Linked DNA regions of Homo sapiens: region 2 is linked to region 1. Evidence: fine-mapped expression QTL. A gene starts in region 1. The other region holds a variant in brackets. All regions are shown on one strand. Distances are from middle to middle. Region 1 holds the start of FGFBP2 (fibroblast growth factor binding protein 2). Region 2 overlaps PROM1 (prominin 1).

The links.
Region 2: its variant is fine-mapped to the expression of FGFBP2 in tibial nerve (GTEx, PIP 0.92).

The regions. Positions count from the first base shown.
Region 1 is chr4:15,955,336-15,971,075 of GRCh38, forward strand. FGFBP2 (fibroblast growth factor binding protein 2) reads right to left here and starts at 7,840. Exons shown (of 2, transcript NM_031950.4): 1 at 7,103-7,840; 2 at 4,910-5,276. The coding sequence starts at 7,794. The coding sequence ends at 7,123. PROM1 (prominin 1) reads right to left here. Exons shown (of 28, transcript NM_006017.3): 27 at 15,708-15,740; 28 at 12,893-14,033. The coding sequence ends at 15,732. RefSeq lists an enhancer at 7,870-8,711.
Region 2 is chr4:15,995,392-16,008,780 of GRCh38, forward strand. PROM1 (prominin 1) reads right to left here. Exons shown (of 28, transcript NM_006017.3): 13 at 11,147-11,299; 14 at 5,105-5,228; 15 at 2,994-3,097. LOC124900884 (U6 spliceosomal RNA) reads right to left here; the gene lies at 13,285-13,389. Among named protein-coding and RNA genes, the nearest start is that of FGFBP2, 39 kb to the left of the region's middle. The variant A/G (reference allele first, on the strand shown) is at 4,937.

The DNA.
Region 1 (15,740 bases):
GATGCCATAATTTATGCATCATCTGGAATCACTTAAATTTTTTCTGCAGAAGGTGTGATTGATAATTGTGAAAAATGTCAATAATTGTCCTAGTGTCCAAAATGCCCCCCAAATCAAATAACCTTTGAATTGCTGAACGTAAGTGCAGGAATGTATAGTGGAGATCATGTAGGTCAATGCCACCAGTTTAAATCCATCCATTTGATTAATTGGACAACTATTTGCCTTATTTGTAAAAACTAAAGCCCCACCTGTCAGGTTCCCCTCAAGTACTAAGGGCAGAATCGAAAATGCACAGATTTCTCATATTAAATGGAAGTGGAACACTTCATAGGGCAAGTCTGGTCTCATAGATAATTCTCCTTACACAAGTAAGTTGAGACCTCACCTTTAGGGTCTTCTTGTCCCTCTCTTGATTACTCAGAGGGACAGCTTTTGACTACCTGGAGACCACTCCCAGGAAGTCTGTGAGGATGCTGGGGCTTGGTTTACTGAAGACTAAAAGTGCTGGTGTCCACCTGGTGGCAGCAGCCATCTAGCCCTAGAGACAACTCTGGAAGAGCTGCTGCAGGAGGAGCCCGTAGCCCAATGAGCTATATGGAAAGCCATTACCTTTGCCTTATTCAGTGCTCGTAAGAACCAGACATGCCTTTTTCACCTACTCTTGGGTACAGCCAGCAAGCTGTCTGGTTGGTGACAACTGACCGGTATATTAAGGACACTCCTCTATGGGGCTATAAGCTATTGACAGCCACTACTGCAGCCTCAGGAGACATTTTTGTAACCCTTGTGGATGCCATGGAAGGGATGCATATGAGGTGAGACAACATGAAGCCAAGTGGGTGACTGGACCCTCCAGCCCTGGTGGCCAGCATCACTGCCTCAATCCATTATTGGACTGGAGATGGTAATCTTGCCACTAACACAATAGACTCAAAAGTTAAACCTCATCTGAGTGCCACAGAGAATAAAATGGCCTACTGGGACTGTGGTTCCTCTGGTTCCTCTCCACAGTTGATCTCTCAGTCTAAAGGTGACAGGGATCATTAGCTCTGGGGGTGGGGCCTGACTTTGTCTGGCAAATACAATACGTTGGTCCTCTGCTGTCACCTGGTGGCCATTACTGGTACGCAGTGGCAATTGACAACTGTCATCATGGAGTTGCCATTCTGTGAAGCTGGCAGATTCCGGCCACACCGTAGTGGCACTGGAGACTATTCTCTGCTTGGCTTAGTATCCGGTTCACTTGTAATTAGACGATGCCGTACTGTTCACAGCAATGGTGCCCCCAGTAGTGGGCTAATGGACAAAACATTCAATGCACATTTCATGTCCTTGGTCTCAGGTTGGCGTCATTTTTAAGTGGTAAGATAGACTTTGGAAGATGTGACTGAGAAAATTACTAGACAAATGATGTTATCGGCACTGTGTCCTACACATCTTTAGCAGACAATGTGAGCATTACATGCAGCTGATCCTCAGAGGAAACATTCCCCTTGGAGGAGGTGATTGGAGAAAATCAGGACAGAAGAGGCAGGGATTCAGGGAGATCGGTTCTCTATGTCTATGATTTCACCATAAAATCTCTCAACCGCTGCTCTTTTTCTTTTTTTAAATTGACCCTACCACCTGGGAATCTTCACTGGTTTCATCATTATTTGACACCATCAGTGACAACACAAAGAGGGTGACTCCAATCTGTTGCTTCTACCACTCCCTGGTTTGGCTTATTGAATATGGAAGATCATATGATTAATTGCTAGAATTTGTGAACTGTAATGAACTCTTTCAGTGGCTGAGTTCTACTACTGTTCCCAGCCCTCATGATTGGTGACCCATCAATGAGGAAGGCCTGGGTGTGGGTGAGTACTTGATTAATAAAGATGGATGTAGCAGTTACTGAATTAGAACAAATAGATTATGTCACTGTCGAAGGAAAGGAGCACCCCCAGTATTAGGGAGAAACCACCCTTTACATTTCAGTGTATAAACAAATTTCAGTTCATTTTTTTGTATCAAGTAATAGTAGATATTCATATTTTTCTCATGGATATGCTGTTATTTCAGCACCTTTTGGTGAAAAGAATTTCCTTTTCTTTTTTAAAATTTCTTTATAAAATTCAAATAAAATACGTATATCATAAAATATGCCATCTTAACAATTTTAAGTGTATAATTTGGTAGTATTAATTACATTTGTTATGCAACCATCACTGCTGTCCACTTCAAGAACTCTTTTAATCTTATAAAACTAAAACTCTGTAAACATTAAACTAACTTCCCATTCTCACCTCACCATAGTCTCTGGCAGCCAACATTCTACTTTTGGTATCTGTGATTTTTGACTAGTCTAGGTACTTCATATCAGTGGAATCATGCAGTATTTGTCCTTTGTGACTGGCTTATTTTATCTGGCATAATGTACTCATGGTTCGTCCATATTGTAGCCTATGTCAGAATTATCTGCTTTAAGGTTTAACAAAGCCTTTCCTTTTAGGATGACTGAAATATTGCTTGGCCAATGTTACTCTGCATAAAACACATGGAAATGTTAAAATACACATTTCTGGGCCTCACCCCAGATACTCTGGTTCAGTTTGTCTGTGGTGGGGCCTGAGAATTAGCATTTTTTTTGAGATGGAGTCCTGTTCTGTCGCTCAGGCTGGAGTGCAGGGGCATGATTTTGGCTCATTGCAACCTCCGCCTCCCTAGTTCAAGTGATTTTCCTGCCTCAGCCTCCTGAGTAGCTGGGATTACAGGCACCTACCACCACGCCCAGCTATTTTTTGTATTTTTTAGTAGAGATAGGGTTTCGCCATGTTGGCCAGGTTTGTCTCAAACTCTTGGCCTAAGGTCATCTGCCCTCCTCGGCCTCTCAAAGTGCTGGGATTACAGGCATGAGCCACCGTCCCCGGCCAAGAATTAGCATTTCTAAAGCTCCCCAGCAGAAGCAGATGCCTCTGCCCCACCTGTCACCCTTTGGGTAGCACAGATTTTCATCTTTAAAATCACTGGTCAGCTATATGGTGATGTTAGTTTAAAATGTTGGTGAAAAATGGTCTGTGACAAATCCCAGCCTATCCTGTGATGTTTACAAATTGAACGCCATGAGCATTAGAATTGGGTGAACCTGGATTTCTCTGCTGTCCTGACTCTTAACAAGCTGTGTACAACTCACCTCTCCAGACTTTCAAGTCCCTTGGTTTATAATTGGGAATAAAACTACTTACCTCCTAGGGATGTAGTGAGAGCTATATGAGGGGGTGAGTGAAAGGCTCAGAGCCCTTATAAGAAATAGACTTGGTATGTCACAGTAGATGCTTGATGTATATATATTTTAGAAACTCAACCCCAGCAAACGTCCCCTGGCTGCCCCCACCCACCGCCTTCTGTGTCATCTCCAACACTCATCAATGTGTTGTCTTGGTTTCCACTACTTCACTGCACTTCTAAGATGTGAAACCTAGTTGGTTAGTTCATGTCTCCCCTAGCCAATGTGTTGCACAGTGCCTGGGACATAGTTGATGATGAATAAATATTTCTTAATTGTGTGAACTACATATAGAGGCCATATTAGTAGTCTTCAACTCAGGTTACACATAGAATTGCCTGGAAATTACTTAGGATACACCCCAGAGATTCTAATTCAATTAATTAAGGGCGGTGTTTCTCAAACTTGGCTGCATATTAGAGTCACCAGGGGAAATGTAAAATTGCACATGCTCAGGCCCCATCCCTGGCCAGTTACACCGTAACCTCTGGTGCTGACGTCCAAGCACCAGTGTTTTTGAAAAGTTGCCCCAGGTGACTCCATTATGTAGCTAGGGTTGGGCACTGCTGGGCTAGTTGGGGAAACAATTTAAGTACATCAAGAGTGGACTAGTGGGCCAGGTACAGTGGCTCACGCCTGTAATCCCAGCACTTTGGGAGGCCGAGGCGGGCGGATCACCTGAGGTCAGGAGTTCAAGACCAGCCTGGCCAACATGGTGAAACCTTGTCTCTACTAAAAATACAAAAATTAGCTGGGCATGGTGGCACATGCCTGTAATCCCGGCTACTCGGGAGGCTAAGGCAGGAGAATCGCTTGAACCCAGGAGGCGGAGGTTGCAGTGAGCCGAGATTGCACCACTGCACTCCAGCCTGGGTGACAGAGCGAGACCCATCTCGAATAAATAAATAGCCATTAGAAAAAAAAGAGAGAGAGTAGACTATTAATGTGTTCTTAGGTAAGACAAATACGAAATTAAGAAGTGAGTCACTTTTCGCGTATGTCTAATAAAATCTAATTTTCTTCCTTTCCAACTCTGTTGATTAATTTAATTGCTGAGTGTACAGGGTTGTTCTTTTTCAGGTTCACTTCTCTATCTTTTTGGCTAGTTGCTATTGCTGCATGGTGGCTGTGCTGGGTTGAATAGTGCCCACCAAAAATTTATGTCCATTTGGAATCTGTGAATATGATCTTATTTGGGAATAGGGTGTTTGCAGACATGATGGAGTTAAGATAAGGTCTTTCTTGATTAGGATGGACCCTAATCCAATGGCTGGTGCCCTTATCAGGAGAGGGAAATTTGACACACACGCAAGGGAAAATTCCATGTGAAGACAGAGGCAGGGATTAGAGTGATATGTCTATAAGCCAAGGAATGTCAAGGATTCCAGCAACTTTAAGAAACTGACAGAGAGGCATTGAACAGATTTTCCCTGAGACCCTCCAGGAGAAACTAACTTTGGTGACATCTTGAGGCACTTCTTGCCTCCATCACTGTGAGAGAACACATTTCTGTTGCTTTAAGCCACCTAGTCTGTGTAATGCACGATGGCACCCTGAATAAAATAATAGTGACTTCATGGGTATACATGATCCCTATAGCATCTAGGTATCACGTTCATTAAGAAGACTAAAGTCGTATTTCTGAAATCATTCTTTTATTTTGCACACACATAGCTGCTATTTACTGAACACTGGAAATTCATGAATGCGTTACATATTTAAACTTTCATAGAAGGCTCAGATCAACAAAGCAAAACTTCTACAGATAATAAGTAGTTGTGTATGCTTGTCACTCTTGGGCCCATCAGCACCTGTTCCCTATCATATTGCTGAACTCTGCAAACTCCAGAAAGGAAGGTTTCTTTTCCAAACTTCAGAGAAGCTGCAGATCAAGAATTTGGGCCGTTGCATCTGATTAGAAACTCTCTTCTTCCAGTGTGAGAACGTTGGATTGAAAGCGGCATAATATAAAAAGAGATGGTTGTCTGTCAGGGAGAGGTCAGATCTAAAAAAAAAAAAAAAGAAAAAAAAAGGAAGGGATGAAAAATTCTTTCTTTGTTGTTATGGGTTGAATTGTGTGAATTGTGTCCCTCCCAAAACCTAAAAACCGTAGACTTAAGTCCTAACCTCCAGTACCTCAGGGAGCGTTTGTATTTAAAGATAGGGGCCATTAAAGAGGTGGTTAAGGTAAAATGGGGCTGTTTGGGTGGGACTTCATCCAGTGTGAATGGTATCCTAACAAAAAGAGATGAGGACACAGACCCACGCAGAGGAATGACAGAGAGAAGGCTGCCATCTATGAGTCAAGGAGAGAGTCCTCAGAAGACACCAATCCTGCTGACACCTTGATCTTGGAATTTCAGTCTCCAGAATTGTGAGAAAATATATTTCTGCTGTTTAAGCCACCCATTCTGTGGTATTTTGCTATGGCAGCCCCAGCAAGCTAATACAGTAGTCCTATGCAGCTTATCTGCAGGATCAAGATATTGTTTTGAGCTTTAGCGCCTGTATGCATCTGTATATACGCTGTACATCTGTCTGTGTAAATACGCATGGATGGATGTCTAAATGGGTACTCTTCTGTTAACATTGTTTATCTCTGTGTGGTGGGATTATGGATGAAGTTTTAAAATTCTTTGTATTTTTCTGTTGTGTTTGAATTTTTCAAATGATTTGTATGTCTTATTTGTAGAAAGACCAAAAAAATCACTTTAAAAAGAAAAAAAAAAGGACCTCCTCTCAATAGTAACTTTTTTTGGCTTAAGTGTCCCCTTTTCTCCTCTGGGACAGATCTGAAATCTTAAACAAGCAGAAAACCTCCAGCCCAGAACAGCAGACACCAAAACAACTTTGTTGTGAACCAACATTTCTTGCTGCCTGGGCGCTTGTAGAAAAAGCCTTATTTGTTTGGTGGTATTCGTTATCAAAGTGCTGTTTATCAGGAAATCTGCTTTGTTCCTATTTTTCTTACATAGATAATATGAAAAAAACTCAGAAACTCTCCTTTTAAACTCAAAGTGCACAAGTAAGACTAGAATCCCATGTAAATGAACTCCTTACTGGTGTGCAAAATTAATGAAAGCTGCTACATTTAAGGATAGAGATCAGTAATAAGCCTTATTTCCACAAGAAAAAGTTTGGTCTTTTAAAAGCAATACTTGGAGTTGATTAAATCTGTTATTATTAATTAGATTTTCTCCTCTGTGATGAACAAAAAACAATTAAAGGCTTTGAGAGCTGTGAGAAAGACTTTAAAGACTATTTGACTCAAACTTTCCTCAGTGCACAACACTCCCCACCCTAACTTGACTGTAGGAGAAAAAACTGAGAACAAGACGGGGTGTGGCGACACCTCCACCATGACATAGCACCTCGGCCACTAACAGCTGCAGCAAATGCTTGGTTCATTAGGAAACGTTACCCGGCAGAATTCCAAAGGCCTCGGTCTAACAGTGAGGTGGTTCCATCACAAGGAGATTCTCAACCTTGGCTGCACATTCAAATCACTTGGGGGAGAGTTTTAAAAGTCCACATTCCTGCGCTACTATGTTGGAGACATAGATGGAACGGTCTGGCGAGGGGCCTGGGCATCAGCATTTTTAGAGCTCCTTGTAGGTGATTCCTATGCAACTCCAGGGTCAAGTGCCACTCCGGATGAACTACCTCATCTACACTGCTCTGCAACAGACAGCCTCAAACCCACCCCCAAACACACGCTGAGACTCTGATGTGGTCGCAGCAGCTGTGAAAGTGCTAAGTGCCTCTCACGTAGTCTCTGTATATAAGTATATACACGTAGTCTCTGTATATGAGTAAAGGAAAGGGTATTACCTGTAGGGGTCTTTCACCTGTCACCCTCGGAAGAAGCTGATGAGAAAGGCGCACAGGGCCTGGAAGGGTTTCCAACAATGTTCCCAGGCCTTCTTCTTTGCTTCCTCATTCCCTCCGGGCCTGGGTCCAGGCTGGGTAGGTTTGGCTGTGGGTCGGGTGGTGGGTTTGGCTTTTCCCAGCTCTTCCATCGAGTCCTTTCCCAGCTGTGTTGCTTCTGTGAGTTTCACTGTGGCCTTGGGCCTCAGAGATGGCGTCCCAGCCTCAGGCTGCTGGTTGGGCTCTGGGCTGCCCTTGAGGCTGGAAGTCACCTGCTGCATATGGGCCTGGGGTCCAGCCTCCCTGCACACGGATGGCCTAAGCACCGGGGCCCCCTGGCACGCATGGTGAAGGCGCCTCAGCTCCTGCAGGGCTTGATTCCAGTAAGGTTTGGGGTCAGCAGCGAAAGCCTGGCACATGCTGGGCTGCCCCCTGTACTCACACCAGTAGGTCTGGTCTGTGTTGCGGCAGTCGACACGAAGCCAGACTTCTCCAGCACCTTGCCCCAAGCTGCTGGGACGCATAGTGCAGGAATCTCTCCCTCCAGTCTGGAAATGGAATTCCTCCCCAGTGCTTCCTTGCTTTTGCCTCGGGGCCTGACCCAAAGTCCCCAGGCAGGACAAGGTCACCAGCAGGAGGCAGGGGACGAACTTCATGGCGATACTCCGATAAACTTGCTTGCAACTCTGCACCAGGAGAGAGAACACAAGTGGGACGAGTCACCCTTTAAAGGGTGCTGCACAAAAGACTCTTTCTCTGCAAGGGTGGGGAGGATGTTTTGCAGCAAATGAGAAACATGCCCACAGACCTTAGACACGTAACACTTGGCAAGGGCAGAGCAGCCACCAGGGGCCGCCCACCACAAGCAAAGGGAATGGTTTTCCTGAGTGCCTCAGAGAGATCTGCCCCAGCCCTGTCACGCACAAAGCGCCACACACAGCTTTGGGGCTGAGGGTTTTACAGTTTTCCAACCACAGGGTGCTTGCTCTAAAATTGGCCCTTGTACGGGAACAGCCTTCTTTGTCAACATTTGGTATATGCCAAGGTGTGGCAGTGGTATTCTGGAAAGTGAGGTTTGCAGCTGGGAGTCTGGGCTGCCTCGAGGCTCCCTCCTGCTCCCTGGAATCCCCATCTTGGGGGACCATGGGTTTAGTTAATCCAAAGGAAGCCAGAATTTTATGAGCCTAAGTGTTATGAGATGGCCTAGCAAATGCAAAAAAGACTATGTGAGGTTGTGTGAGGATGTGTGTGCCAGAGGGACACAGAGACACTCCCCCTCCCACCCACCGAGCTGAGAGTCACCTGGTGTGGCCTCTGTGGGGCTGTCCCGCCATCACCGTGGCCACAGGCCACAGTGCTGCAATGTTCACTTCCCTTGTTATTGCATGCCTTACAATTGCACCAACTGAATGATGACGAGGAAGGCATGCAAATATATGTTCACAGTGGGATTCAGTCTATTTTAGACCATGAATTCTATTTCAAATTCAATTGAAATAACACAGTTTTAATTATATCACAGGAAAATATGATTTTAAATATTATTATTATTGTTCTACAATAGAAAAAAAATAAATTGAAAATAACTTTTGATTCTGTGTCAAGAATCATAGTTTGGTATGGTCATAACTGTCTTTTGATGACCCTTCCAGAGGGCACTGTGGAGTGGACTAAAGGTGGCAATTTGCTGTTAGGAATAGGGTTGACGGATGTTGGGGGACTAGTTTGAATGTGAGGGATTTATCTTGGCGATCCCACGTAGGGTAGTTGGTACCTGGCACAGCCTTCCTTCCACCTGGATATCCTGAGTCCTGAGAAGACCTAGTAGGGCTGGAACTAAAGCCAGGCTGAGCTTCGGCAGCCACTGTGTGTGTAGCAGTGAGAGCCTTCCAGAAGAGGGCATCACCCCAGGTGGGGAGCAGAGGAAGCTTCCAAGAAGTGGTGCCAAACCTTCAAGACAAGTCAGTCAATTTGTCAGGTTGAGAAAGGGTAAAGGGCAGGTGTTTTTTTTGTTTGTTTGTTTGTTTGTTTGTTTTGGCCTCATTCTGTCACCTAGACCGGATTGCACTGGTGTAATTATAGCTCACTGTAGCCTCCAACTCCTGGGCTCAATTACTTCTCCTGCCTCAGCCTCTCAAGTAACTGGGACTACAGGCATGGGCTGCCACACCCAGCTAAATTTTAAATTTAAAATTTTTAGGGACAGGGTCTCACTCTGTTGTCCAGGCCGATCTCACACTCCAGGCCTCAAGCAATCCTCCTGCTTCCTTGTCCTCTGGAGTCACTGGAATTACAGATGTGAACCACCACAACCAGCTAAAGGTAGGTTTTTTTTTTTTTTCACACAGTCTTACTTTGCCACCCAGGCTGGAGTGCAGTGGCACAATCTTGGCTCACTGCAACCTCCACCTCCCAGGTTCAAGCAATTGTCCTGCCTCAGCCACCTGAGTAGTTGGGATTACAGGCGCCTACCACCATGCCAGGCTAATTTTTGTGTTTTTAGTAGAGATGGGGTTTCACGACGTTGGCCAGGCTGGCCTCAAACTCCTAACAAGTGATCCGCCCACTTCAGCCTCCCTAAGTGCTGAGATTACAGGCACGAGCCACTGCGCCTGGCCAAGGGCAGATTCTTAAGGCAGGATAATGCTTCCTGTAAAGGAGTGATCCTGGAGTGCAGGTTTATGGACTGCTGAAATGTCAAGGGCAAGGAGGCAGTGGTGAGAATCAGGCTGGAGAGGTGACTTAGGGTGGGGTCCGCAGCCCCCGTACCAATCCACAGGGCCAGTTCTAAGACAGAGGCTTGCCCTTTGTGTGCTTCCAACTCAGGAGCCCCTGGAGTAAACAGCACTCCAACCCAGGCTCCATGTCGTGGCCACAGGAAGGCAGGTGTTCAGCTCCAACCTCCTTTCCCCCACCCACCACAGTGTTGCAGGGAACAGCTTGCTAGACCCATCTAGACACCCTGAGGTTATGGCCAGCCCTTTTCAATGCCCTAGTGAGGCTGAGTTTACCCTGCAATGGGAACTTATCATAAGAGCTCTAATCACGCTCTTCCTCTTTTCGCTTTTGGGACAAGCCAAACCTCAAGACCTTTGCACTAGTGCCCACTGCCTGAAAATCTTTTCCTTGAACATCGCATGGCTGCCTTCTCCCTGCCACCTTCACAGAGGCCTTCCCTCGCTATACAATGTAAAAGAGCTCTTCTGTTCCTCTATCACTTCATCCTGCTTTAATCCTCTTGAAGGCAGTGATTTCTCTCTTTTTTTTTGAGACGGAGTTTTGCTCTGTCACCCAGGCTGGAGTGCAATGGCGTGAACTTGGCTCACTGCAACCTCCGCCTCCTGGGTTCAAGCAATTCTCCTGTCTCAGCCTCCCGAGTAGCTGGGACTATAGGCACATGCCACCACATCTGGCTAATTTTTGTATTTTTAGTAGAGACAAGGTTTCACCATATTGGTCAGGCTGGTCTTGAACTCCTGACCTCGGATTATCCACCTGCCTTGGCCTCCCAAAGTGCTGGGATTACAGGTGTGAGCCACCATGCTCAGCCCAATTTCTCTTCTTTCTTATTTGCTTGTTCATCTTTTAAGTGTGGAGTGTCATGATCAGATTTGCACTGTAAGAGACTGCTGTGTTGAGAAAGGATTGGTGGACAGGGGGACTTTGTACAGGGAGGGTAGTGGGCAAGCTGGCTCTGTATGGGCTGAGTTGCTGTAACAAAAAGACCTTCTCTATTATGAACCAGTCTTCCAGGTTCATGCCTGGAAGTTCTTCAAATTTAACACATGCCTTCCAAGGTTTGTTTGATTGCTGCCATTTCCAGTGGAACAAGTCCAGGATCTGCAGTTTTGTCTTAGTAGACACTTCACTTACTTACTGCTGGCCTAAGCCTAGTCACTCAGCCACATCTAGCTGCAAGGGAGGCTGGGAAATATAGTCCCCACCAGGTAGCCTATGTCTAGCCAAAACTCAGGGGGCTGGAAGCCTAAAAGAAAGAGGGGAATGCCTCGCTAGCCAAGAGACATTATGAAAACTGTAAGAGGATCTCATCAGTGGGGATGGAGAGGAAGGCTTTGTGACCAAAGGTAGATGGAAGGGAGGGGGAAAGCAGACTTAAGAGTTCCTCCAGCTCCAGTGATAGGGTGAAGGTGGAGAAATTCAAGAAAGGGAACATGGTGGGGAGAACCTGTGGCGATGTGCAGGTCAGGACAGTGGTTTAAGGCAGGGGCCACAAACTGTGGCCCATGTGGCCTGCTTTTGTAATTTTTGAAGAACACGGCAATATCTATTCACTTACGTATTGCCTATGGCTACTTTTGTGCTGCAACAGAGTTGAGGAGACATAGGCCACATGGCCCAGAAAGCAAAATATATTCACTGTCTGACCCTTTTCAGAGAAAGGTTGCCAACCTCTGGTTTAAGGTGCATCTGGGTGGAGACATGTCATGAACACAGGGTTGGCTGGAGCTCTATGTGATGAGAGAACCAAAGGGAGCAGGTGAGGTGATGAGTGAATGAAATTACCCAAGGAGAGAGTGAGGGGCACACCAGGAGAGAACCTGCGAATGCCACCTAAATTTAAGAACTGGAGAGATGAGTGTTGGAAGGAGACTGAGGAATAGACAGCCATGCCCCAAGAGGACACTGGAGAGGGCTCTTTTGGGAGCCTGAAGGGAGATCTTTGTAAAGGGGATGTGTTCACAAAAGTCAAGTCCTCGGTGACCCCGACAATAGCCCTTCAGGAGTGGTGGGGACAGAAGGCAGGTCACAGGAGTTGAAGAACCAATGGAAATGAGAAAGTGGACAGAGATGTGTCGAGAGTTCTTTCAAGGAAATTATTTCCAAAGAGAGAGGGAAAAAAGAAAACATCTTGTACTACCAGGCTGAGTGTGCAATGGGGTTGAGGAAAGGCTGATTTTTTTTTCTTTTTTGAGACAGAGTCTCGCTCTCTCAGCAGGCTGGAGTGCAGTGGTGCGATCTCAGCCCACTGCAACCTCTGCCTTCCAGGTTCAAGCGATTCTCCTGCCTCAGCTTCCCGAGTAGCTGGGACTACAGGTGCCCACCACCACACCCAGCTAATTTTTGTATTTTTAGTAGAGATGGGGTTTCACCATGTTGGCCAGGATGGTCCCGATCTCCTGACCTCATGATCCACCCACCTCGGCCTCCCAAAGTGTTGGGATTACAGGCGTGAGCCACTGCGCCCGGCCAGGCTGATTTTTTTTTTTTTTTTTTTAGCAAAGATAAGAACTTTAGGCTTGAGATACTGAAAAATAAATAAATAAAAGTTGCAAGAGTGACACTAGGAGTATTAAGTTGGCTTGAATAACTTGAATTAATATTTAAATGGGTGATACAAAAATCAGGTTTTCAAAAAATGGGAAGTTAAGAGATAATTTCCTCCAGAAGAATTATACACTATATAGTCTTGTTTAAATTGCAAGCCTCTTGTGTGTTGTTTTAAAAAAATTCATTTTTACTGGTGTATGTTTAGGATTACATCAGGCAAAGTAGAGTTTGCCTATAGTTGGTATCCAATTGTATATATTGTGACCTGGACAGTTCCCTAAGAAATGATGACTTCAGATCTGAAGAAGATCTAAAATATAGCCCACTTTGACCTTGACCTTGAATTACTTCTGTATAATGGGCCCTTTAATAATAATTAATGGAATTCACAAATAACACATGCTCAAATTTCATCATCTAAGTTGTGAGTCGCTGGATCTACTCAAGGAAGTAACATACAGACCATGTTTTCCAAGTTCCTTTTTATTCAAATGAATCAGAACTGCAATCTGCACATGAAAAGACCTGGGGGGAATGCCTACATCTGGAATTTCATTACATCAACGTTAAATTTTGTCCGACCAGTTCTTCATTGCTGATCACTTTTGATAATGACAGATCCAACATGAAACTCCTGAAGCAAATGAATATTTACCTTGTGCTTTCATGCAAATTTAGGGACCAAACTCAAAGGTTTCATCCATGCTGGACACCAGATCTAAGAATTGTGACAGGATCTTCTCATATTTCATTTTAGAACACTTGATACTAGTCTGATGATACTCATGTTAGCTGCACTCCAATTAATGTTTATCGTAATGCAACAGAAAACTCTGTTAAACTGTACACCGTAATTGGCATCTGTTAAAACAACTCCACTTTTGAACGAACAGCATTTCTCTCTCAAGATCTCTCTCTCTCTTTTGAATTTGTCAGATGGAGTTACGCAGGTTTCTCTATGATTGCTTTTGCATGCCATTTCCAAGTGGAACATGGCCAATCTTTGATAAAGTATAATAGATGAAAATCTCTGCGTGAAGAATATGCTGTAGGTTTCACACACTTTTAGTGAAAATGGATTATTTTCAACAGCACCAAGAAGTCAATGGTGACTTATTTAGCTCATTTAGAAGAAAGTCCTATAATACTCATTTGTTTAAAAAACTCTGTGGTAACAAAAGGTATATACACCGTTTACTGTACACAAAATGCATCTTTCCTGTAAACTGGTGTGTGTTCAGCACACTCCACACATGGCAATATGTTAGAATCTAGCCATCACATTTGATAGAGTTTTGATAGAAATGCATCCAATGGGAACAAACACCCCATATGTTGTAGTGTCTAAATAGAAACTCAGTGTAAAAAAGTAAAAAACAAAAATAGACAGGAAGGGAGGGAGTCATCCTTGAATAGTGATGGACCATGGACTATAACGTGATTGTGTTCATTCTTAAAGCACTACCCAGAGACCAATGGTGCCGTTGCCTTGGTGCCCGCCTGAGTCACTACGTTGCCACTGGCGTTGCTCCTGGATTTGGAAAGTCCTTGTAGACCCAGAAACTACCAAAAATCTGTGATCCTTTCCACTTTGAGTATCCTGATGCTGAAATGAAAGTTAAACACAATTTTAGAAATTGCTTTTGAATTAATAAAGAGAAAACCAGGAATGCATAATCCTAAAATGGTCCCCACCAGGAGCCTAAGAACTAAGGAAAATATAAACTCGTTCAAGAGGCACAGCAATATGTTTGTTGCAAAGCAATCTGTTAAAATATAGCAATATAGAAAAAAACTTTGTGGTTTTTGTTTATTTATCTTATTTTATTTATTTATTTTTTTGAGAGGGAGTCTCACTCTGTCGCCCAGGCTGGAGTGCAATGGCGCGATCTCAGCTCACTGCAACCTCCGTCTCCCGGGTTTAAGCCTCAGCCTCCCAAGTAGCTGGGACTACAGGCACCTGCCACCATGCCTGGCTAATTTTTATATTTTTTAGTAGAGATGGGGTTTCTCCATGTTGGCCAGGCTGGTCTCGAACTCCTAACCCCAAGTGATCTGCCCACCTCAGCTTCCCAAAGTGCTGGGATTACAGGCATGAGCTACCATGCCCAGCCAGAAAAAATTTTAAGTCCATAATACTCAAGGTACGTGGTTGGTACACAGATTTCTATATTTTTGTTTGTTTGTTTGTTTGTTTAGAGATAGGGTTTCACTACATTTTCCAAGTTGGAGTGCATGAGTGTGTTGGCTATTCACAGGTATAATCATGGTTCACTGCATCTTTGAACTCCTGGGCTCAAGCAATCCTTCTACCACAGCCTCCCACCCCAGTAGCTGGGACTACAGGCAGGTACCACCATGCCTGGCTTATTGTTTTACTCTAAAAAAACACTTTCTTTTCTTTTCTTTTTTTTTTTTTTTGTGATGGAGTCTCACTCTGTTGCCCACGCTGGAGTGCAGTGGTGTGATCTCGGCTCACTGCAACCTCTGCCTCCCAGGTTGAAGCGATTCTCCTGCCTTGGCCTCCTGAGTAGCTGAGATTACAGGCAGGATTACAGGGGCCCCCCACCACACCCGGCTAACTTTTTTTAGTAGAGACAGGGTTTCACCATGTTGGCCAGGCTGGTTTTGAGCTCCTGACCTCAAGTGATCTGCCCGCCTCGGCCTCCCATAGTGCTGGGATTACAGGCGTGAGCCACCGCACCAGCCCTTATTTTTTTACTTAAAAAATCTTATCTTTTTAAGTAAAAAAATTTTATTTTTTTAATATACACCCACATACTCACTGTGTGTGTGTATATATATATATAAATACACACACATTTATATAGCAATGCATATATATACAGAGAGGGTCACTGTATCGTATGTATACATGCAGTCGTCCCTCTGGATCCATGTGGGATTGGTTCCAGGACCGCTACACACATCCTCCTACATACTGTATATCATCTCTAGATCACTCAAAATACCTAATACAATGTAAGTGTTATGTAAGTAGCTGTTATACTGTATTGTTTTTATTATTTTTATTTTTGTACTGTTATTTAAAAAAAAATTTTTTTAGAGTATTTTTGATCCACAGTTGGTTGAATCAATCGGTGGATGTGGAACCTGCAGGTACAGAGGGTGGACTGGACATATAAAATATCTTGTCTAATATGCTGATCTAGATTTCCCACTTAATGTGGCAATGTATTAGGAATAGCTATGTTTTGATGTTCTAAAAACTAAAAACTATAGTCCTGTAGATTCTCTTCAATGAAAGCATCAAACTTACCTCAAGCAGTTTCAACATCAGCTATCAATGTTG
Region 2 (13,389 bases), 39 kb after region 1:
GGAGGAGGAGGAGGAGAAGAAGAGGAGGAGGAAGAGGAAGAAGAAGAAGATTTAAGAAAGATTTAGAAGACAAAGCCTACGAGTAACATTTATAAGTTCATTCTGAGTGTTGTCTCAGGGCTCCAGAAGCTCAGTTTTCACTGCCATGGGCTGAATAATGGAAACGAGGACTTTTCTCTGTCCTTTAACTTTGTATTTGGCCCCAAAGTGGTAGTGGGATTTTTAAAAGCTCCCAAAGAGTAGCCTACTGCCCCTACCTCCCTGCCTTTGTCTGTGTCCCTCGGCCGAGGTACCTTTTTCCTTCTTGGCCCAGCCAATCCCCACTAACCTACTAAGATCAGCTTAGGTGCCATTTCCCTCAGGTAGTCCTTCCTAATCCCTCCATTCCCACACTGCATAAGACACCCTCCTTGGGGCTTCTAGAGTAGCCTCAATACATTTCTGTCACCTGTAAGTATCACTGTATTCTAGAACACTTCTTTACAGATCTAACTCCCTGCTAGGTTTTCCTTGACAAGTAGGACCAGAGTCTAATTCAATTTTGTATAATATCTCAGGTATACCGTTACCACAGGTGCTCATATAATAATAAAAGCAGTTGTTAGTATGGTACTTAGCTCGCTTTACAACAGGTGCTCATAAAATAATAAAAGTAGTTAGTATGGTACCTAGCTCACAGAGTGGTGTGGATATTAAAGAAGTTTACACAACCGAGGTGTTTCCATCAGTCTTGGCATACAGAAAGCACCATGCAGGTGCTAGCTCTTAGCATTTTGTTAAATTACCACTATTACCACTTAGCATAATATTTATTAGGTAATAGAAATAAACAGTAATGGCCGGGCTTGGGGCTCACGCCTGTAATCCCAACACTTTGGGAGGCCAAGGTGGGTGGATCACCTGAGGTCAAGAGTTCGAGACCAGCCTGACCAACATGGTGAAACCCCATCTCTACTAAAAATACAAAAATTAGCCAGGCGTGGTGACAGACACCTGTAATCCCAGCTACTCAGGAGGCTGAGGCAGGAGAATCGCTTGAACCCAGGAGGCAGAGGTTGCAGTGAGCTGAGATGGTGCCATTACACTCCAGCCCGGGTGATAGAGCGAGACTCCATCTCAGAAAATAAATAAATAAATAAATAAATAAATAAATACTTAGTAATGACACAGCTACATTTGTTTTAAAATAACTTCTGTGGTTTGGCTACAGGAACTAATGACCATTGATTAATTAAATGTGTGCATATTTCAAAATATTTTTAAAAAGTACAAAAAGAACCTTGCAATACCTAAAAGTATAACAAATTCACAAAATGCTTAAGAAGTCTCTTGAATATCAAATGATGGCGAATACTACTAAGCTATATAATAACGCTAGGCATAGGGTTAATACTTGCTTAAAATTGCATAAAGGAACTCTGAGAGAATAATAAGAACACTAAGAATGGTGGTTCACGTGTAGGGCATGGAAGGGCTTCTGTGTCTCTGACTTATGAAGTGTTCTGCTCTCAATGTGAGTCACTATCGCCCTGTTATTTTTAGTTTCATTCACTATGAACACACCATGTTAACACACACATCCTCCGGCCCTTCGGTCTCACAGTGGGAGAAATAAGTGTCACCAGTGTTTAAAAAGCATCCTGTGAACTGATTTCAAATACTCTTAAAGTGACTCCCTTCCCTGTGGCTCATAGCAGAGAGCTGCCCATGGGTTCACACCTAAGATCAGACACCTAAGACTACCAACCATCAGACTAGGAGCCCATTTCACCACTGAGCAAAAGCAGACACTACACAGTGAGCTAAAAGAAATGCATTTCAATGAAACATATATATATATATGAAATGCATTTCGTTCATATATATATATGAAATATATATTCGTTCATTCATATATATATATATATGAAATGCAAACATATATATATATATATATATGAAATGCATTTCTCTTAGCTCACTGTGTAGTGTCTGCTTTTGCCCAGTGGTGAAATGGGCTCCTAGTCTGATGGCTGGTAGTATACATCACCTGAGGTCAGGAGTTGTTATATATATATATACATAGTTTTTTTGTTTTCTTTTTTCCTGAGAGAAAGTCTCACTCTTTTGCCCGGCTGGAGTGCAGTGGCACGATCTTGGCTCACTGCAACCTGCGCCTCCCTGGTTCAAGCAATTCTCTTGTCTCAGCCTCCTGAGTAGCTGAGTCTACAGGCACATGCCACCATGACTGGCTCATTTTTGTATTTCATTTTTAGTAGAGATGGGATTTCACCATATTGGTCAGTCTGGTCTCGAACTCCTGACCTCAGGTGATCCACCTGCCTCAGCCTCCCAAAGTGCTGGGATTATAGGCATGAGCCACTATGGCCAGCCTAGATGAACAATATTAAGAACAGGTATTGTTTATCAAGTCCAAATGATGTGTCAGGCACCATTCGAATCTCATGTATCTTACTTAACCCTAAAACAACCCCAGGGTCAGATTCCTATGATCATGACCCCCGTGGAACAGAGAAGATGTGGAATTGCCCAGGGCACAGAGCCTCCAGGAGGGGGCCGGGGTCAGAGCCCAGGAGTCCTGACAGCAGACAGCTCTCCAACTGCATTGCCTTCCCCCTATCAGTGATCCAAATCACTGAATCACCTGTTCACTATTCTTGTTGGATGGCTTTTACTTAGAGCAATGTGGTTCTTGAACAAGATCTCTCATGGGGTCCCATTAGTGCATCGTAGGGTCACCTTAACTAGTGAGTTCCAGAGATTATTGGAGAGCGAGACCTTGAAACATCACCATTCCAAGGTCTCAAAGGCTTTCAGTAGAAGGAATATATTTTTGATCTAATTTCTACTGTGTCTTTAAAATAATACAGGACAGCTTATCTCTGAAACATGAAAGTCATATAATTAAGATTTAAAAACACTTCAAATGCAAAATTCTCATTCCAGAAAAAGAACATCTTAAATAGCGAAATGTATAATGCAAATATTGATACCTGTAAACTTGTTCAAAAGTGAGCTTCATTTTTGATTTATTAAATAGCTTCCCAGAGAGATAGTATTCCCAGTCTTCATTTAGTAAGTAGGGTGTATCCAAAACCTAGAACACATTAGGAAGTATTTTCGAAAAATCAGTTTTACACTAACATACATACTAATATAATAAAATTAATATTCTGTTGAATGTATTTTGGAAATTTTTCATAACATTATTTTTCTGGTTGATTTCCAACTTATAACTAGAAAATAATAGTATAATTGGAATAAATCAATTTATTATATTTATTGATGGGTAGCATCAATCAAAATTATTAAAATTACTTTTTTTGAGAACTTTTTTTTTTTGAGACAGAGTCTTGCTCTGTTGCCCAGGCTGGAGCGCAGTGGCGCGATCTCAGCTCACTGCAACCTCCCCCTTCCGGGTTAAAATGATTCTCCAGTCTCAGCCTCCCGAGTAGTTAGGACTACAGGCACCACCACTGCCTGGCTAGTTTTGTAGTTTTAGTAGAAATGGCATTTCTAGTAGAAACAGCATTTCACCATGTTGGCCAGGCTGATCTTGAATTCCTGACCTCAGGTGATCCACCCACCTCAGCATCCCAAAGTGCTGGGATTACAGGCGTGAGCCACCACGCCGAGAACTCTTTAATCTTTAACCTTTATCTTAATAAAACAAACACATTATAAATAGAAGCAGAGTAGACCATTTGATCAGAATAGCTAATATACAGCCATTAAGTGGTGGACCCAGTGCTGCGCTATTTCTCTCTCTGGACAAAATGTATTAAAATTCACACACTTGGCCGGGCGCTGTGGCTCACGCCTGTAATCCCAGCACTTTGGGAGGCCAAGGTGGGCAGATCACGAGGTCAGGAGATCGAGACCATCCTGGCTAACGTGGTGAAACCCCGTCTCTACTAAAAATACAAAAAATTAGCCGCGCGTGGTGGCGGGCACCTGTAGTTCCAGCTACTCGGGAGGCTGAGGCAGGAGAATGGCATGAAACCGGGAGGCGGAGCTGGCAGTGAGCCTAGATGGCACCACTGCACTCCAGCCTGGGTGACAGAGTGAGACTCCGTCTTAAAAAAAAAAAAAAATTCACACACTCTCTGCCTCTGCATCATACATATTTAAGATGGGCAAATCAATGCATGACTGTACGCGCTTGAGAAGTAGAAATGGTTTTGAAATATCCCGTACTTAAGAAAAATTATCTTTGAATGATTCGACACTCTACAGGAGATAATGATGCCTGGCTTGATGTCTTTCTTTTATCAAAAGGCCAAATGGAGATCATTTGACCTGCTGGTGATCTCAACTTAATCTCCCTCGACCAGTGAAATAACTAAAATACTGTGACAACAGTATTCTCCTGATTTCATAACAGATCTTAGGCGGAAAAATGTATATACAATGAAAGAGTGAAATAGAAATATATTTTAAAAATCAGAATCTGGAGAAAAAAAAAACACAGAAAAGCCACAATTAGAAGCCAGACACTTACAACAAAATTTCCTCATTAATGAAGAAAGCAAAACTGCCAACTGGTCCCCCGGAGTCGGTGGGAGTTGGACTGAGAGGGAGAAAGCGAAGCTTGAATTCATTTCCTGGTGGCACTACTAGACGTGTGCCAGGTCAGCCCTCTGCCACGAGTCATCCGCTTATCAGTCTCTTTCCCTTCAAATATAGGGCTCATCTGTGTGGACACCTCTGTCACCTGGGAATCTCCCAGGGTGTGTGGGAGGAACCTGGGAACTGATCTTCTGATGTTCCCAGCCACATTTGGAAACTACTGCTGAGGAAAATTCTTTTCTCCCCAAATACTGCAATCCACATTGAGCGGCAGGACTTTAACTCCTGACCCTGATTTCGCTTATGATCAGAAAATAAGGACGCTCCCATATTTTTTTTTCTCTTACAAATAGAAAGGATCTACTGA[A/G]TTTATTGAATATTTGAAAATTTATTGAATTTAATAATTTCAAGAAATTTACTGAATTTAAACCAAACTGCTTATAAGTTTGCACTGCTCTTAAAGTAATGCACAATATATGAAGAAATCCAAGTTTCTGTTCAAGTCCTTTCATAATGGGTAGAAAATCATATTTACCCGGAATAATTCCTTGCTCGTGTAAGGTTCACAGATCAGTTTTTCCACATTTGCACCAAAGACAAAGGTAAGAACCACAATGATCATCAATATCCAGCAAAAGAGGAAACTTAATCCAACTCCACTGGAAAAAAATATAAAGTTAGTAATTCAACAAAGAATGATTCAATATTACCTACTGATACTTACTAAATCTACCTATACTCTATAAAATAGCCCTGGGGTCTTCAGTGTTATTCAGGTGAAACAGATCATCCACCTAGGAGTGACACAGGGCTTGGGGACCTGGAGAGGGGCAGCTCCAGGACAGGCAAGGGTACACTGGATGGGGGCCTGGGGACCTGGGGAGGGGCAGCTCCAGAGCAGGCGGGGGATCACTGGATAGGGGCCTGGGGACCTGGGGAGGGACAGCTCCAGGGAAGGCGGGGATGTACTGTATAGGGGCCTGGGGACCCACGAGGGGTAGCCAATAAGGGGCTGAAAGCACACGAGGAGCACAACCCGACTTCTCTCTGAACGCAAGCACTCTTGGCACAGTGTAAAGGATAGACTGGACAGGTGCCAACGTGGATGGGACATCATTGCAGAGGCTGTTATCATGGCCCATGAGGGTGGCCTAAGGGGGCAGGATTGGTGGAGAGTTGGTGGATGATGGAGATGTAATATAGGAGACACAGGAGGCATAATATAGGAGGCAGCAGGACTCGGAAAGCGCTGAACACGAGAGGTAGAGGCAAGGAAGGGCTCCAAGGGCAGTGCCAGGGAGCGCTGATGCTCTGGAAGGAAAGAGAAGATGGGCTGGATGTTGGTCTTGTTGCCAGAGACACTGAATGGAAAGACTGTGTAGGAGTCAGTATGTTTGGAGCTCAGATATCTGGGTTTCGGATGTACCTTAGGGAGCCAGCAGCTTAGCCATGGTCATTTATCCCCAGGGCTGGCTTGGAGAGAGAAACAGCCTAGGGCTGGGTCTGGAAGACTTCAACATTTACAAAGATGGGTGGTGGAAGGAGGGGCCAGCAAACCAGACCAAGATGATGAGGCAGAGAAGTAGGAAGGTAACTATGTGGGTGTGATGCCACCTAGGGGACAAAAGGAGTGTTTGCAGGAGGAAGGAATGGTCGGCTGTCACCAACCAATGTGCTGTCTGCATTGCACAGAGAGGTCACTGCCAACTTGAAACAAGTGCAGTCATGGGGGAGGAAACCACATCGGAGTGGACCGGAGAGTCAGCAGGAGAGGAGGGCACAGGCAGCAAGCGCAGATCACTCCTCTGAGAGCCTGTGTGGGGGAAGGAGAGCTATAGGGAAGAGGCAGTGTGGGTAAAGAGTTTCTGCTTTTATTTCTGAAGAAGGGAGAGAACAGAGCCTGGTTAAGTATTGAGTGAAAGTCAAGGAGACAGGAAGAGAATAAAGACATGGAAAAGAAAGGGGATGATCCATTTTATCAGGATCAGGGAAAGGAATGGGATTGAGAATATAGCTGGCGGGATCAACCTGAGCAGGCAGGAATCCCTCTGCTTCTGGCACTGCAGAGAAGGGATGGATGTGTTTGAGAGCAGGTGTGTTTGGAAGTTTGATGATGGGAAGTTGCATGATGGCTTCTATTTTCTCTGAGAAGAAGGAGGTAAAGCCATCTGCTGAGAGAGGGGTGAAGTAGAGGAAAATGGACGTATCAGAGTGAAAAGACTGTTGCAGGAAAGTGTGGGGGGTGTCGAAAAAGAAAAAAAACAGAAAGAGAAGGAAGAAAACAAAAGAAATAAAAGAAAAGATTTGTCAGACTATGGCAAGTCCATTTGAGACAGGAGATCCTAAGTTTGTAGGGATACCCAATGTACCCGGTGCGTAGCTTTTCTCTAGCAGTGCTTAGCTGTCTAGATGTAGACATAGAGAACAAACTCTTAAATCGATCTAGGTGCAGCTGCCAAATCAAATACCATCACTGGTGCACACTAGGAAGGAGCCTCAGAAGGGTGTGGGCTGATGCTCGCAATCACCACAGCATCCCCTCCTAAGGGCACGATTCTCCCCTTTGCCTGCAGATGCCAAAGCCATAATTACAATATTTGTGTATCTTCACTAAAATAAATAGCAAGTAATGTTCATTGGAAAGGCCTAGGTCAGCCTGACTTTCTCTGACCTACAAGGCTTCTGAGTCTGGGAGAGCACAAAGAAGAAGTGAGTGAGGGCCATGCCAGGATCCCTGTCTGAGCATGTGTGTCTGTGTGTTGGAGTTAAACAACTCATATAAACCAAGACAGCTGTCTAAAAAGGGCACCATGACTCTTACTCTAAATCGCATACAGTCACTATCTCCAGCCTTTATTTTCTAAATATGCACATTCCTAGATCAGGGGTAGGGGAACCACTGCCCAAGGTCTGTTTTTCTAAGGTTAGTGAGATAATGGCTAATGTGTACTGAAAATATTGAAAAGGAGGAAGAGGAGGGGGAGAATAAGAGTAAGATGAAAGAGCAAAAGAAGGTGAAAAAGAACAAGAATATGCGACAAAGACTGTGTATGGCCAGCAGAACCTAAAATATTTATTACTTGGCCCTTCTTGGGAAAAGCTTGCTGACTAACCCCTGATTTGCACAGTTAGGATAATACATGCATCATTTTCTGACCCCCTTTCAAATGCATTATCTTAGAAACTTTTGTCAACAAATTAGGACTGTCACCTAGTTATCATTTCAGGGGCCATGTGATCTTCCACGCATGGATGTGTCATAACTCACTTGGCCACTCTTCTACAGCTGGACATGTAGGCTGTTTCCAGTGCTTCACTATCATAACTAATACTGCAAAACACCTCCCTCTTCATGATGATTTCTTCACAGTTTGGCTTACTTCCTTCACCTAGATTCCCCAAAATGGAAATTATTCGGCAAAGAGCATCATGGTCTTTTTACAGCCCTTGCTATATAGCCTGACAAACTGCTTTCCATAACCTCAGAAACTGCCACCAGCCATAGGAATGTGCCCAGTTTGTGATACCTGTGGCTGCTCTTGGCATTGTTGTCAATACCTAAAATGGGAAGTTTTATGATGGGCTTCAAATCACGAGATGCTTGTGCCTCTGTTAGATCTCCTTATCTCTGGAGAGGCCTCCTACGCCCCCCTGCAACAGATAATACATTCACCACTGCATCCTATTCAGCTGCTAAAATGCTCCTGGGGCCAGGGGTAGCGGCTCACACCTGTAATCCCAACACATTGGGAGGCTGAGGTCGGAGGATCTCTTGAGACCAGGAATTCAAGACCAATCTGGGCAACAAAGCAAGACTGTCTCCACAAAAATAAAATTAAAATAAAATGCTTCTGGGACCATCTGAAGATAAAAGATCAGAGCAGAGCCAGGGCTCTCTGACTTTCCTCCTTCCAGATCTTTCACTGGTATCCTTTTGGGAGGTAAGAATTCCTGCTTGGTTTTGAAAGAGACCATGCTCTTGATTGGATGGTGTCACCATTTTTAAAGAGCAGGTGGTGTTTTGGTTGCAACAAAACTACACATACTCTTTCTGGTTTCTACAAGCAAGTAAACAGTTTTAAAAAAAGAAACTGCATTCTTCTAATTAGTCTGATTAGACTGATGACGCTTGTATCATCTCCTCCTTTTGCAATTATCCAGTTGTTTACCAGATACCTCAAGAAGCAGAGAATTCTGCCAAGCACAGCAAAGCGTGCCATGCTGACTGGTTGCATTCAACAATAAAGAAATCATAGCCACCCTAAGTCTGCAGACTCCTTGAAATGAATCAAACAACATCTGACAGTTACCAGCCTTCTTCCTGCTGCTGAGATGAATCCTATGGCCTCCATGCCACAGGTCTCCATGTCTATAGAATTAGTATATCTAAACTAAGGTAGCTTTTAGCCTCCATCAATTTGTTGATGATTTCTCTGTTTTATTTTTTCTTTCTTTGAAGCTTGATATCACATTTTTTGTTGTATCCCTTTAAAAAGTGTGAATAAAATTTCGATGAGGGGTGCACCATTTTTCAGAGCAATTTACCCTACCTTTCAAGTAGTTAAAAAAGATGGAAATATAGGTATATATACACACCCCACCAAAACACTAACAAACAACCAAGTTAAATTGTTGTTAAATTTGTAACATTAAACTTAAAATCAATTAAACATTAAAAGTAATGGCAAAAACTGCAATTACTTTTACAGCAACCTAATAATCTTCTGTTTAATGTATTTTTGTGTATCTGTGTACATTTGAACAAGAAGGGAAGACAAATTCATTTTTCCTTGCAGATGTGATTTCTCCTTTTTTTCTTCTCTGTCCACAGGTACTTGCAGCTAATCTTTCTTTCTTTCTTTCTTTCTTTTTCTTCCTTCCTTCCTTCCTTCCTTCCTTCCTCTCTCTCTCCCTCTCTCTCTCTCTCCCTCCCCCTCTCTCTCTCCCTTCCTTCCTTCCTTCCTTCCTTCCTCTTTCTTTTTTTCTTTATTTCTCGCTCTCTCTTTTTTTTTTTTTTTTTTGACAGAGTCTCACTCTGTCGCCCAGGTTGGAGTGCAGTTGGCACGATCTCGGCTCACTGTAACCTTTGCCTCCTGGGTTCAGGTGATTCTCGTGCCTCAGCCTCCCAAGTACCTGGGATTACAGGTGTGCACCATCATGCCCAGCTAATTTTTGTATTTTTAGTAGACATGGGGTTTCACCATGTTGGTCAGGCTGGTCTCGAACTCCTGGCCTCAAGTGATCTGCCTGTCTCGGCCTCCCAAAGTGTTGGGATTACAGGCGTGAGCCATCGTGCCCAGACAAATATAATTTCTTAAGCTTTGGCCTGTGAGCATCTAAGCTTCTGTTTGTGTGGAGTTCTTTGTCCAGCCCTGGTAGACCTCAGGTCATTAGCTCTAAGGTGATTTTACGACTCTAGTTTGTAAAGGCCTATACCATACTGGAGCCTAATTATTGTAGGGAAAGGATTTATAATCATAGCTTGTAAGAAGCCTGATTTATTGTTCCAGTGACCCAAAGTTTTTTGTTTGTTTGGTGTGTGTGTGTGTGTGTGTGTGTGTGTGTGTGTGTGTGTGTGTGTGAAAATTTGGTTTGAAGACCCAAAGTTTTAAAAAACAAATTAATCAAATTAATGTACAGCATCTGCTCTCCAGCCCGCTCACTCACAGCCCCGTGCTAGTGACTTAAGTGGATAAATGAGAGAACACGACTCAGGTTTTGGTTCTTCACTCCCCAAAGGAATTGTTTCAAACCTTAACCACTGACCTAGAGCCCCATCTCACTCCCTACTGCTGATTCTTCATGATCTTATCAAAAAGAGAATATTGACTTAGAACCCACACAGCTCTCTCCCTGCAGAGCATTCAAAGCCATTACACCACATCCTAGCTTACATTTCTGGCTCTGGCCCCGGTTGCACCTGGCTCATGCCTGCTATGCTTTGTCGTATCCATAGAGTCACAGGTTTTTCAAAGACACTAACTTGGAGGTCAATGTCTTTGAAGCAGGGACAGTCGCTCCAGTCTTCTGCCGCAGGCATACCTCTCCCTGCTGCCTCACACCTGTTCTCACGCCTAATCTAGGCTACCTGTCTAAATCCTAAGGGTTCTGCCTTGGCAGCCTTAGTTCTAAATCAAGTTTCTAGAATTTCAAGCTAGCAATACTGCTGACCAATACTGCTGTCCCACAAGAGATTGGCTCAGCCTCTGGTGAGTGAATAAATGAATGAATGAATGAATGACAAAAAGAAGGAACAATAGAAATCAAGAAAGCAAGTCTAGCTGCTTTTAAAAGGAGCCTGCCATATATAAATAGTGTGCTTAAGCTGGTCTATCAAAATGCAAGTAATTTAGTGTTGTTGTTGTTGTTGTTTGTTTGTTTTTAATGTTTAGGCTTGACAGAAGTACCCAAATCAAGGAAGGTCCCATCACAGCAGGATCTCTCCTCCTCGCGACCTGGGAGCTGGAACCCCGCGTACGTGGCCCAGAGGGCGCCGGGTTCATGTAACACCAGAGTCAGCACCCAGTCTCTCTCCTGCATTCCCACTCCCACATGACAGAGAGGAGCAGACACTCACACCATGAGGAAGACGCCTCCGGTGTTGGAGACACAGCCTCGGGTGGTCGGGGTGGCATGCCTGTCATAGCCGCACACGCCACACAGTAAGCCCAGGTAGTAAAAAATCACGATGAGGGTCAGCAGAGAGCAGATGACCAGGCCACCCAGCCACCTGGAGAGGCAAGCACAGTGTTAGTATACATGACACAGGTGACGCCACCCTAACACAAAAGCTGCTGGACTAAGGCTGGAGCCGATGAGTTATTCTTGGCTTCTAAAATCAGAGTCTTCTATCAATTCCTCAGAGGACAATAATGTTGAGTGAAAAGATCCCTTCACACCCTTTGCCTTCCAATTCAACCAGCGGAGAAACTTTTATTTTGATTCTAGGTTTGCATTGTTCCTGGTGGTCATGGGATCATTGCCTCCTTCCTTTGCTTTGATTCCCACGGGTGTCACACAGGGTTCATAAGCACAGCACACTGAGCTTCTCCAAGGCTACTGATGAAAACACCCTTAAGATTTTTATGTTCTTTTAAGGCCTCTGATGTTCTAAGTGCCTATTATAATAATGAAGGCATATGGCTAGATCATGATTAGACTACAGATAAAGAAATACTGGATTCTTTTCCCTGGGCCTTTTTCTAAAATATTTTGTGGTTGCAGAAATATTTGGGGCCACTGTGTTCTTTACTGAACCAGATTACATGGCAGATGCATGGGGTATTTAGAATTTTATGAGCATCCTAAATCAAATGCCTGCAGAATGCAAATCTCAATTTCATAATGGTCCTGCGAGACATTTAGGATAATGGATCCTCAATTAGGCCTTACTGGCATTCCCGGAAGGGAGAACAACCTTTCCCGGCAGCAAGAGGCATTCAAGGGTAGTAATGCTTCCCAACATTTAAGACACTAAAAAACAAAGAATTTACTTCTGCTTGGTGCCTCTTGACCAAGCAGCACCACTGAAGCTTTTCATTCAATTAAGAGCAATCTCAGTAATTATAGTAATAGCCACAGGCAGCCATTCTGGGGAGGTTTGTTCCAGACAGTGAGGGCACAAAATTAAATAAGCCATGGAGGCTGGCCTCAGAAAACTTTTAGAGTTAAAGGAGCATCTGCTTAGTTAATTTTCTTTTTAAGATAAGTTCATAGTGTCAGGGCAGGGGGAAAAGGAAGGGAGATGGATGGCAGTCAGGTAGACAGGTAATGGTACTATTCTTTCTCGTTTGTGAAGCTCTGATCTCTAATGAGATTATAAGTTCACTGAGAAAGGGTCTGCCTTCTGTTTGTTCTGAGACTTGCTGGGGTGGCCTAGCCCCACAAGGGAATCATGGCAGGTGCTCCCTGGAGCTCGTTGTTTGTGGGGCGATGACAAAAAGCAGAGCCAGATGGAGCTTCAAAACCTACCTCTGCCGTATGCTAGCTGGCCTTAAGGAAGTCACTTCACTTCCCTGAGCCCGTCTCCTTGTCTAGAAAACAGGGTTGTAAATGGAACACAGGCCAGGGGATTTTTGTGAGGATTAAAAGAAATGTGCAGAAAGTGCTTGGTGGGCACACTGAAACTGTCCCATAAATGGTAGCAACTGCTATAATTTTAATTACGTATCCTGTGGTCTTGTATAAGAAATAATCCACATGAGAATGAGTCTCCGGACTCCCCATGGGCTTGGGAGATATAAAGGGTTGCTGAGCTCTTCAGAGAGAGAAGTGCATCTTACCTAATACATGATCCTCTAAATTTCTTGAGCCTCCAAGTCCTTCCCTCCCCAGGGCTCTGACTGGGATGTCCACCACCCTCACCCCGGGTGAAACCCCACCACTCGCATTTTCTAATGGGACAACCAGTGGGCACCACAGCCACTCACCTAAGCTCTGGGAGCAATTCACTGGTTTCAAGGCACAGCTAAGAAAAGAATGCTCTTTCAGTAAGAACCAACCTCTGCATATTTATTTTATAAACCAATGTTTATATTGGTTTATAAAATAGAAAAGAATATTTCCCAGATGTCCTTCTTAATTACTTTTAAGCTTTAAAATCTCATTACATGCCTGGTTTGATAATTATAACTAGTATTCCAGAAACCACTAATGACATCAAAATTGCAAATTATCAAGTATTTGGCTCACGAAGGTCCAGTCTTCAACTTAAAAATAAACGTGGACTGCTTTACAAATTTGCATATCATCTGTACACAGGAGTCATGCGAACCTTCTATGCATTGTTCCAATTTTAGTATATGTGCTGCCTGGTCTAAG